Linked DNA regions of Homo sapiens. The protein of the gene in region 2 purifies or fractionates together with the protein of the main gene of each other region. This does not show direct contact. Each region holds a gene or a part of one and is shown on either strand. Other genes may lie near its edges.

Evidence for each region.
Region 1: the proteins of ZNF704 (region 2) and ARID4A purify together in Homo sapiens (co-immunoprecipitation; 3 studies listed by BioGRID and IntAct, with this or other methods). This does not show direct contact.
Region 3: the proteins of ZNF704 (region 2) and SUDS3 purify together in Homo sapiens (co-immunoprecipitation; 3 studies listed by BioGRID and IntAct, with this or other methods). This does not show direct contact.

What each region holds. Positions count from the first base shown.
Region 1 is NC_000014.9:58,360,908-58,364,564, reverse strand, and holds part of ARID4A (AT-rich interactive domain-containing protein 4A), read right to left. Parts: coding exon 3,523-3,657; coding exon of another isoform or gene 3,463-3,522; intron 396-3,462; coding exon 1-395.
Region 2 is NC_000008.11:80,627,891-80,630,963, forward strand, and holds the end of ZNF704 (zinc finger protein 704), read right to left. Parts: 3' UTR 561-3,073; downstream 1-560.
Region 3 is NC_000012.12:118,414,491-118,418,626, forward strand, and holds the end of SUDS3 (sin3 histone deacetylase corepressor complex component SDS3), read left to right. Parts: 3' UTR 1-3,543; downstream 3,544-4,136.

The DNA.
Region 1 (3,657 bases), on a different chromosome or scaffold from region 2:
AGCTTCTATATGAGGTTCACTTCCTGCTTCATTCTGGCCAAATGATGAAATCTTTATAATTTCTAAAGAAAGATCTTTTGTCTTGCTTCGTCTTCCCTTTCCTTTTGGAGATTTTTCGGCTTCTTTCTTAACTTCTTCTGTTTTTTCCATTTTGTTCCCAAAAATCTGTACTATTTGTTCATTCTCTCCAACTTCTAACTTCAGGGTTTCTAAAGGCTGCATTTGAGTCCTATCATTTTCTTTTAATATATGTGCAGAAATCTTTGGATTTTCTTCATCTAGCTTATCATCATTCAAATTTTCATTTTTTTCTAGTTCATCTTTAAGAGAAAGTTCTTCATTTATTAAATTCTTTTCTAAAGCATCTTCTGTTTCACTATCAGATGAACAAGAGTCTGTAAGAGGAAATATTATTATATTATACAGGTTTTTATATTACCAATGTAATTTTACAATAAAAATCTTACCAAAAATAACAATAAAAATCTTTAATCATGTACCTCTGAATACCTCCCTGTAGAAATTTCTGAAATAAAACAAATCATAACATTTGTGCCAAGAATTTGAGGGGGAGGGGAAACTAAGCTCCAAGCAAAAATATATTACGTTGCATATTACTAACTCAAATCTATATGAAAAGCTATTTTGCAACATTCCCCAGTATCATATTTAGGTACAATAGTCCTTAAAAAAGATCAAAAGATTAGTACCTAGACATCCTAGACATGAAGTTAATTTGTTAAGTGGTTTGAGATAGTATCTAGGAAGGACAGATGATGGGCATTTTGTACCCTAAGAAAGGAATATGACATTCTACTTAAAATAACTGTGGAAAGAAAAGGTTTTTTCTTTTCTTTTCTTTTTTTTTTGAGACATAGTCTCACTTGGTTGCCCAGGCTAGAGTGCAGTGGCGTGATCTCAGCTCACTGCAAGCTCCGCCTCCTGGATTCAAGCATTTCTCCTGCCTCAGCCTCCTGAGGAGCTGGGATAGGCGCAGGCCACCACGCCCGGCTAATTTTTGTATTTTAGTAGAGATGGGGTTTTGCTATGTTGGCCAGGCTGGTCTCAAACTCCTGACCTCAAGTGATCCGCCCACCTCAGCCTCCCAAAGTGCTGGGATTATAGGCATGAGCCACCGTGCCCAGCAAGAAAAGTTTTTAAAATGGGCAATTGGAATCCTCAAAACTTTAAATATTCTTAACAGACAAGAAAGTACAGGAAACAAAAATTGTTCCCTGTAAGGGAACTTGTAAAATAGTAAAGTAGGGTTCTAAGACTGTATAGGATCTAAAAAATATAAAAATATTGTCCACATGGTGCTCAAATCCTCAAGAAGTTCAAAACTGCAAACATGAATTTTTTAGTGAAAAGGTGTATACAGTTTTATTTTGTGGTTTTATCATAAACAGAATGTAGAATTCATTTTCATGTTTTAAAAAATCCCTTTCAGTGGTAGTTTAATAAGGCTGGTATGTAGTTGTATAGACTGGACACTGCACACAGGTATGCCTTCTAAGAGGGTACCTTTCACTTTGTGGACATCTTAAACATTTGTCAGCAGATGGCAGTAAAGAGGAAGGATGTCCTTTTATAATTTGCACACAAGCACCATATGGACTAATAGCAAACATGTAGTTCAGTATAGCTTTTTTCTTGAAAGAAGAGAAATTTTTATATAAGACAACCATTTAAAATTTCTTTTTTGGTGGCCGGGCACAGTGGCTCACACCTGTAATTCCAGCACTTCAGGACGCTGAGGCGGGTACATCACTTGAGGTCAAGAGTGCGAGACCAGCGTGGCTAACATAGTAAAACCCTATTGCTGCTAAAAATACAAAAATTAGCCAGGTATGGTGGTGCACACCTGTGGTCCCAGCTACTTGGGAGACTGAGGTGGGAAAACTGCTTGAACCCAGGAGGTGGAGGTTGCAGGGAGCTGAGATTGCGCCACTATACTCCAGCCTGGGCAACAGAGTGAGGTGGGGTCTTGCTCTGCTACCCAGGCTGGAGTGCAGTGATGTGATTACACTTGCTGCAGCCTTGACCTCCCAGACTCAAGCAATCCTCCCACCTCAGCCTCCTGAGTAGCTGGGACCACAGGTGCACACCACCATGCCTGGCTAATTTTTAAATTTTTTTGTAAAGATGGGGTCTCACTATGTTGCCCTGGCTGGTCTGGAACTCCTGGGCTCAAGTGATCCTTTTGCCTCAGCCTCCCAAGGTGCTGGGATTACAGGCATGAACCACTGCACTCAGCCTAAAATTTCTTAATTACATTTAAAAGTATACAGAGGTAGAAAAGTGGGGGAAACGAGTACAAGCAGAATAAAATATGTTCACCTATACTCATTATAAAACATGCCTGCACCACAGTAGTCTGTGTTCTCTTAGAACCACATGGTCTCAGCTTTGCTGAAAGATCCCAGATGAACAGCATTGAATTTATAGGATACACTGGTACAGGCTTTGAGGGAAAGTGTAGCACACATTAGGATGCATGGATTGTCAATTCACCTTCTATTAAAATATATTATTTTCAAGATACTTATGAGAAAAAGTATTCCTAAATGAAAACATCACTAAATTTTAGATAAAAATGATACAGCAAAATATTTTCTTCAAATCAAATTTTATAGTTTAAATCATATGAGATTAAAATCCTAGGTGATTTACAGGTTGAACACCCCTAGTCCAAAAACCTGAAATCCAAAATGCTGCAAATTCCACAACTTTTTGGGCACCAACATGACACCACAAGTAAAAAATTCCAGACCTGACCTCATGGGACACATTGCATCCAAACACAGGTGCACAACAGTTTCTTCAGCAACCCCAAGCTAGTGTACGGGTAACCTTTTAATGAAAACACAGCATCGTAGGTGGAGACTGAAAGCCTGCTGTTTGTTTTTGCTGTTGTTTAGCAGCTGATACAGGTATTCTAGTGATGCTACCTTGCTGCTTAGTTTCCCCACACAATTTTTCCACTGTATTAATTGTAAGTCATATGTTTTACTGTTATGTAATTATGTGTGAATAAGTGTAAGAAAATTGCTTATCAGTAGCTGGCATATAAATTCAGAGTCAAGAATAACAGTGATGCCAAACAATCACAGACTGTTCACATGGGTGGCTGAGACAATTATACCTGTGATTTCTGATGGTTCAAATAACACAATCTTTATTTCATGAACAAAACTATTAAAAATATGGTATAAAATTACTTTCAGGCTATGTGTATAAGAAACACTAATTTTCATGTTTAGACTTGGGTCCTATCCCTAGGATATCTCATTATGTATATGCAATATTAAAAAAAAAAAATCAAAAACCAAAAACACTTCTAGTCCCAAGCATTTTGGGCAAGGGATACTCAACCTGTACTGTGAATATTTCACACAATGGAAGTTTTATTATTTATGTTATTGATTTTTTTTAAAGTCAGCCATCCTCAAAATTGAGCACCTTCCATTCCATTTGACAGAGGTGAGCTGTCTGGTATATTGCTGCGAGCACTTCTGGTACCTGATTTTCCTTCACTGTTTGCTGTCTTAGATAAGCCATACGGCATGTTTGATGAGAGGGTTGATTTTAAAGGAGGTCGTCCCCGTTTTGACTTCTGCCTCTCCTCATCTCTCTTTTCGTCCTTTTCACTATCTT
Region 2 (3,073 bases):
CCCAGATTCTCAATATCTTTTTCGGCTGCCCTGCCCCTGAGGGTTCTGCCGTGTCCCAGTCACTGAGACCTGGAGGGCCTCTGGGAGCCTGGGAGCAGAGGGCTTGGGAGAGGCGCACTTACAGTCTGAGCACAGTATGTGGAGGTTGCTATGCCCATCCCTCCTCCACGGCAAACATGTGGGCACTGAAAGTCAACTTTGCAGAAACCCACCTTCGGGAGCCCGAGGCCTGAGGATGACAATTCCAGGCTGGCTTAGCTTCAAAATAGGTATTATTTTCCCTCTGTTTGCCACATTGCCTACTTGCTTGGGACAACAGTCAGCAGCACAGGGTCAGCAGCTAACATATTTGGACAATCATTGCTAAGGGAATGGGTTGAAATTGTCATTAGCAGGGCTGAACCTGAGGACACATGCCTTCCACATGTTTCTAAAAATGGCCTTGATGATGAAGACATCTCCTTGGTTTTGAACTATTTTTACAACTCTAGGTAAAACCCCAAGCCCCAGCGAGACTTTCTTGGTATAGTTATCCTTAATTAAATAAATTGGTCTCCGAATAGAAGCAGATACACAAAAACTTTTATTAAGTGGAAGTTAGACTTACTTCATGGTAATTAACCAGTTACAAGTGCATTTAAATTCATGTGTGTGGACACTGTAGAAGTCAAAATGGTCTTTTGAAAGTCCAGTGTTCTGGCTCTGTTTGTGCCAGTGCAACCCCAGGTAGAACCATCCACAAAGTAAGTACAGGTCAACAATGATATCAGACTAGATTGGCAACACCATATTCATTGTTACAAGCATTACAGAACAGAAAAGTCCAAGGACCAGAAGACGATTACTAAAGTGATTCTGACTATAAGCCTTTTCTTCTACTTAAATGCTTCCAGAGGACCAGTGTAGCAAATCCTTAACTCTGGGGGGACAGAGCCACTTCTGCATTTTACACTTAAACGGGCCACAGAAACTGTAAACATTTGGTGGTCTCTTGATGCCCATTTCAAGTAGATGCCAGCTGTCCCCTTGGGAAAGTGCAGTTTAACTGGTATGAACATTTAACATTGTACATCTTCGATCTGAAAATTTCCTTCTGTTTCAATTAGCACCAGTGTATTTAAAAATATTTTTCCTGGTGTTAAATATTTAGGAAACATTTTTTTTTTTAAAAAACGAACACACAAAGTCCAAAACAATGGAAAGCAAAAGAAATTCAAAAAATTGTTTTAGAGAACAGCATTTAGAAAAACAACATCATTTAAACATTCAACAAATCTATGTACAATGTGCCAGAAGCTGGCAAGGAGCATGGCTGTGGAGCAGTCAGGTGAAAGGTTTATCAACCTGAACCTCCACAGGCTGTATTTACAGTCAGACAGGTATTCAGAAATGTGTATCAGAACATCTGGATTTGGCTAAAAATCATATAAAAAGACACAATGCCCCTTCCCCAATAACTTCTAATTAGGTAGCAAACAATCCAGTATAACCTTAAGTACCAGGTTTAGAAATGCGTGTTTTTTTCCCCCCGTATTTTACAAACAGTTGAGAAACTTTCTCAATGGACACTGAAGAGAACCAGAATGACAGAAATGGAGTTCTTTATTTCCACATTGTCAGATGAAGGAAAAGATATTTTTTCAGGCTGAGTAATGTAGTAAAGCACTGATTAAAGAGCGAAGACAAATTATTAGGGGAAAAAGTTTCATGAAAATATGAAATCAACAAGAGGGCTGAAGAAATTTGTGGATATTCTATATAGACTTTCCAAAATATAAGTAATTTTGAAAAAAGATCAATGATTTGCTTTGCTGGACAATATTTTCATATTTTGTTCTTTGAAACTATAACTGATACCCCTTGAAGAATATTTTTTTCTGGGATTGAGAATTAAACCCAGCAGATAAAACCTATGCTAACTTTATCCAATGAAATATTCGTTCACTTCATGCAGTTTTGTTTGCTTGTTAATCCAGTGTTACTAGAACATCCACCTTTAAAGAACTGGGCACATTTTCTAACAGCCAACATTTCCCATTTATGCTTACGAAGTAACAAATAAACCATTTCCCATTTATTCATCTTAATGATGGAATTTTTTAGAGCCTGATGTTTCAGAATAAAGTTTCAATCTTTAAAAACATCAAGTAGGAGAATATAGATGGGCTTCCCATATCCCCATAAGGATATGTATCCAAGTTTATTTTGAATAATTTGCAGTTGTGGTAGGTAGCTATGAAAAAAATTTACTTGGATTCGATACAAAATACATGCTACTCTTTGAAAATGCATAGTTTATAATTTTATACATTCATTCACTAACATTAAAGACTTCTGTTAAGCAAGTACTTACCTCTGAATGGTGGTAAAATTATATTTCAAAAGATCTCTAAACATTGGACAGCATTGCCACCTAGCTTTTGAGTTAGCACTCAATGACATGTGAATGCCTGTCATTTCCACACGAGTGTCACACAGGAAGGACTGCTGTTTTCTCTTCATTCTTTCTCCTTTACTTGTTTAGCAGGCACTAAAAAGCAATGTTTTCTACTGATTGCATTTCCACTAAATACCCCATTTTAAATATTTAATAATTTCATTTTAATATTTTAGATTTGGTGTAGAAAACAATTCAGAAGATGGCTTAATTTTTTAAAGTTTCCTTAAACATTGTCATGGACTAAGGGCAACAGAGGTTTTGTGATTACTGTTGTTCTCTCTCTCCAGTCTTCTCATTTGAAAAAATGACCGTAGGCCACTCGCAGTTGCATCTGATGATAGTCATGAACCCTTTGGGACCTAGCGATTTTTTCTTATCCTGAGTTCTTCTTCTAAGTATATAGGATTTTGATACGCAAAACACTTTGGAAACTATTCTAGTGTCTGGTTATTCCAGAAAGCCTATGTTTAAATGGCTGATCACTGTCCAACCATTAATTACAAAAATAGGAATTTTAGGGTGTGTTGTAGGAAAATATTGATTCAGGGATTTTTTTTAAAAAAAACATGTATGATCCACATTCCTGGGTTAGTTTACACCCAGGACATTTTCAGTTATCGAAGTCATGGGACT
Region 3 (4,136 bases), on a different chromosome or scaffold from region 2:
GTTTCGTTTTCTCCTTAATAGAAAAATGTTAACTTACTGGGAATAGCTACTCAGCCTTGGAAATGGAGAGCACTGCAGTGAATTCTTTAGGGCACTTTTGTGGCCGGATGCTTCCAACTTTGTCAGTCTTTTCTGCCTCAACTTCTTCCAGACATCAGTCACCATGAGACTGTTTTACTTTCAGGCGTATTGGGGGGTTTGATTTACTTTCCTTTTATTTCTTTATTTTTTGCTTATACTTGTTTTTGAAAACCTCCTCTGAGTTTGAAGGGACAGCTATTTTTATTGATTATCTTTAAGTCTCTCTACCATGGAGAAGAGCAGGAAGGGATACACTCTCCAGTGCATTTTCATGTTTTGAATCTGATTAGTGGATCACGTAGCTACTTTCCCTGTCGCGTCCAATTCACTATTTGCCCAGAAGCTTGGGGCAGAGGTCCTAGCAGGAGATGATGAATTCTCGTGGCTCTCGGCCTTCTCAGAGAAATAAATGCTTTGTGTAACATCTGTGCACACCATCCATTCCGCTCGCTGAGCGATGGAAAAGCTTGCCTGGAAGACTATGTGCACTGAAGTAAATGGGGTTGGGGGAGGGGACATTTCATATTTATAATGTGCTGAAGGTACCATATTTTAAATGTTATTTAATGCAGGTGATTTATTCAAACATTTGTTCTAGCTTAAGCTGGAATAAGCAGTGGTCATTTCAGAAGTTTTCATTTGTAATTCCTTCCTCTCCCTTGTTCCCAAGTAGGTAGTAGTAAGTATGTGCCACAGGCTGATTATCTGGGTAATCTTTTACGGGTGGGAGGTGAGATTGATAGTGCAATAATCAGTGATCTATAGACCCTCATGCACGATTCAAGTTTCACTCTTGTGGCTGATGCCATTATTGCACATTGGCCATTCCAAACCTGTGGAGAACTTTGTTGTCAGGCCCTGAGCGCTCACAGCTTCATTTGGCCCAGGTTGAAGACAAGGAAAGCTCTGCTGTGGCTGCCTCTGGACTGACACCCTCCCTAATGAGTCCTGATGAAACAGCCTTTCCTACATCCTTCCCTCACTCCCATGATTGGAGAAATGATTCATTGGGTGATGAGTGTTGGGGTTTTCTATACTCATGTTGCCATCTTGAGATGTTCAAAAAATTTGGGGTTAGAGCAACTGTTAGCGTCTCTATGAGCAATCAGTAGAACTTACACATCCTAGGAAATCTTTCTTTGTAAGTAATTCTTTTGGTCTCAAGTGATTCTCTTCATGTTGTCTCTTGATGTACATACCCCCAAGCAAGTTGGGGGGACTGTGATGACAATTAAATCACCTTCTCTGAAGTTCTGGCTCTGCAGAGACCAAACCTTACTGACTTGTACAGACTTGTACAAGTAAAGACTTATACAGATAGATTTTTGTTTTAACTTACAATCCGTTTTTTCCTCTTTTTTTTTTTTTTTTCTGGTGTTGGAGTCTTATTTAGAAAACAGGATAAATGACGCTGTTATCAAAAGTTGCCTGGGGTTCTGTATTTCTTCTCTGCCCTCCAATCCCCGACTGCTATGATGTTTACTACAGTGAACCCAGCCCATGGTAAACACAGGCTTCACCTGTTCTTGTTTGTTAGCCTTGACTGTGAGGCAGGACTTCCCTCGCTTGAACTGTTACACATACGATGTGTGTGTCACATCACATATTGTGCAGCTGTTGGTTTTCATGTAGTGCCCTGCGATGGAAATTAGATATATTTCATGTATTTTTCCATTGAAGGTGGAGTTTTTCAATGATCATGTGTTTTGTCCTCCTAAACAGTATACCAAAGTTTGTTTTTATAGTTGAGGATTGTATTGATAACCACTGGGGTTCCGCATTGAAGCAGGAACAAATTGCCTCTTTTTCTGGCCTTCTCTGTGGGACCTCTGCTTTTGTGAAGCAACTATTTATTTGAAGACCAGGGTATGGGCACTTTTGCCTTCTCTCCTCTCTGACTTTTGAGGGTATTGAGGGCGCCCTTAGTCATAGTCTCGACTCCGCCATTGCCTTCTCCTCGGCGTCCTCACAACTCTTAATTGGGCCTAGTGAAAATGGGGGCAGGTGAGAAGTCCATTTTGAGAATCAGCATAGTAAATTACATTTCTAATCCCAGAGGACTTAATATTTTCTTTTGTCACCCCAGAGGTGAAAAATCAGCAGTTGAAGCCTGACAGGCCTCAGTGGTGACCAGGAACAGAAGCAGCCTTCCTGTTAGTAGATGGGGGTACTTCTGTGGTGGGCAGAAGCCTTACTAAAGGGGAAGACAGACTTTGAAGTTTCTAGACGAGAAGGAGGCTAGCTTCTAGCCTGGGTGGCCATTATTCCAAAAGGTCATTGTTTCTCACTAGACCCCAGGGCACCAGATGAATTTCCAAGTTTAAACTCTTTCCTGCAGGTGATTACTTTGAAAAAGGTTGGTCCAGACCATTTTGATCAAGAACCTGTATATGTGTTGTGTTAGAGGCATCTGCCTCAAGTCTATGTACAGTGTTTGCTGCGGGTGTGTTCCAATATTCATTTTACCTCTGCTTGGGGGTTTTGTGTGTTCCCCTCCCCCCATGCCCTGCCTACCCCCTTTTCCCTGAACCACGTCCTTTTGAATAATTTCCAGATGGATTTCTGTAGCCATACCAAAGCCAGGGTGTTTTCATTCATGCGGATACTAGTATTTATAGATGTCTGACTACCTAACTTAATTTTTGTTTTTGAACTTCTAATTGGGGCCAGTGTAAGGTCGATCCCAGAGGCTGATCTGCAAATCAAGCTACATGTATTTGTGTATAAGACCCTGTGTTCAGGACTGGGTGACTTTTCTAAGAAATATGGGGTTTAGAATGGGGTTGACTGTATTTTTTAACCTAATTCTGGAGAGAAGATTGTATTTTTTACAGTTTTTTGGGTTTGGCTTCCTTCTCACATTTCTTTAGCTTTGAATTTTTACTAAATAAATTTCCTCCTGATTAATTTTTTTTTTCTCATCTGGGAATTTGAAATCTCGGTGCTTACTGTTACACCAATTTGTCCAAAGAGTTGAAATCACTTTAATGCCAGAACATGGTAAATTTGCAGCCATTTCAAGCAGGTGATGGTCTTTTTTTATAACATCGTTAACGGGTACCATTAAATATTCTGAGAGGTGAATGTAAAATATAAAAGGTATAGGTTTTTTTTTTTTTTTAAAGAAAACAATAAACTTTCAAAGAGAAAACCAGCATGAAGTCTGTATTGTATCCATTGACTTGATAAGTGATAGAAATTTATTTTAGGTTTTTGATCCATTGCTTATGGGGAAAGGAAGTTAGGGCAGAGGAAGGGATATTCTAGACATTTAATTCTTAGTGAAGACTAAGATACAGAATGATGTCAGGCTAATACTCAGTTTTGTAAAGAGCAATCTGGGGTGTTGACCCTTAAATGTTTGTGCACTCTTCTTGTTGCAGATAAAAGTCATTAAAAATCAAGTGAATAGAATGGATCTTGGGTGGAAAAACAATCTTGAAATAAACTTGTGATTGAGGATATTGTTCATTTGGTGCATGATTAAGGAGGATATTGTTCCTGGCTTTTGAGATAGTGCCTACCAATCTTAACCAAACAGTGATGGTATTTGTACTGCTCCCGGGGTCAGCCAACAAGCCTGCGTGCTGCCACAGGTGACCGACCTGTGACCCAGTTATGGCACCCCTTTGGGAAAGACTGCTTTATGCTTTAGATGATGGAGAGGGGTGGTTTCTGTTTTTAAAATGTTTGAATTAGACAGAAATGTGCACAAGTTTTAATTGTAGAAGTTGTTGAAATCTCTCAAAGTGAATTCATCCATGTAACTATTATAGCATCCAGATCAAGAAATAACATTCCCAGAACCCACAAGCCCCTTAGACTTTCAGCTACTCCTCCCAACTAGTTTTCTCTATTTTAAGTACCTTAACCTTCAAGCTCTTGAGCTGCTTCCTTCCATGGTTGTTCTAGAAGAGCCAGGTACCTGGTATAGGCTAGGGATTGACCAGGAATGCAAAGAGCTAGCAGCAAAGGATATGACTAATTGGGGAGGGGAAAAACAGATTCAGGTCAACCTGCTCACCCTCCCCATTGTTCCCAAGGCAAGTGGGGCT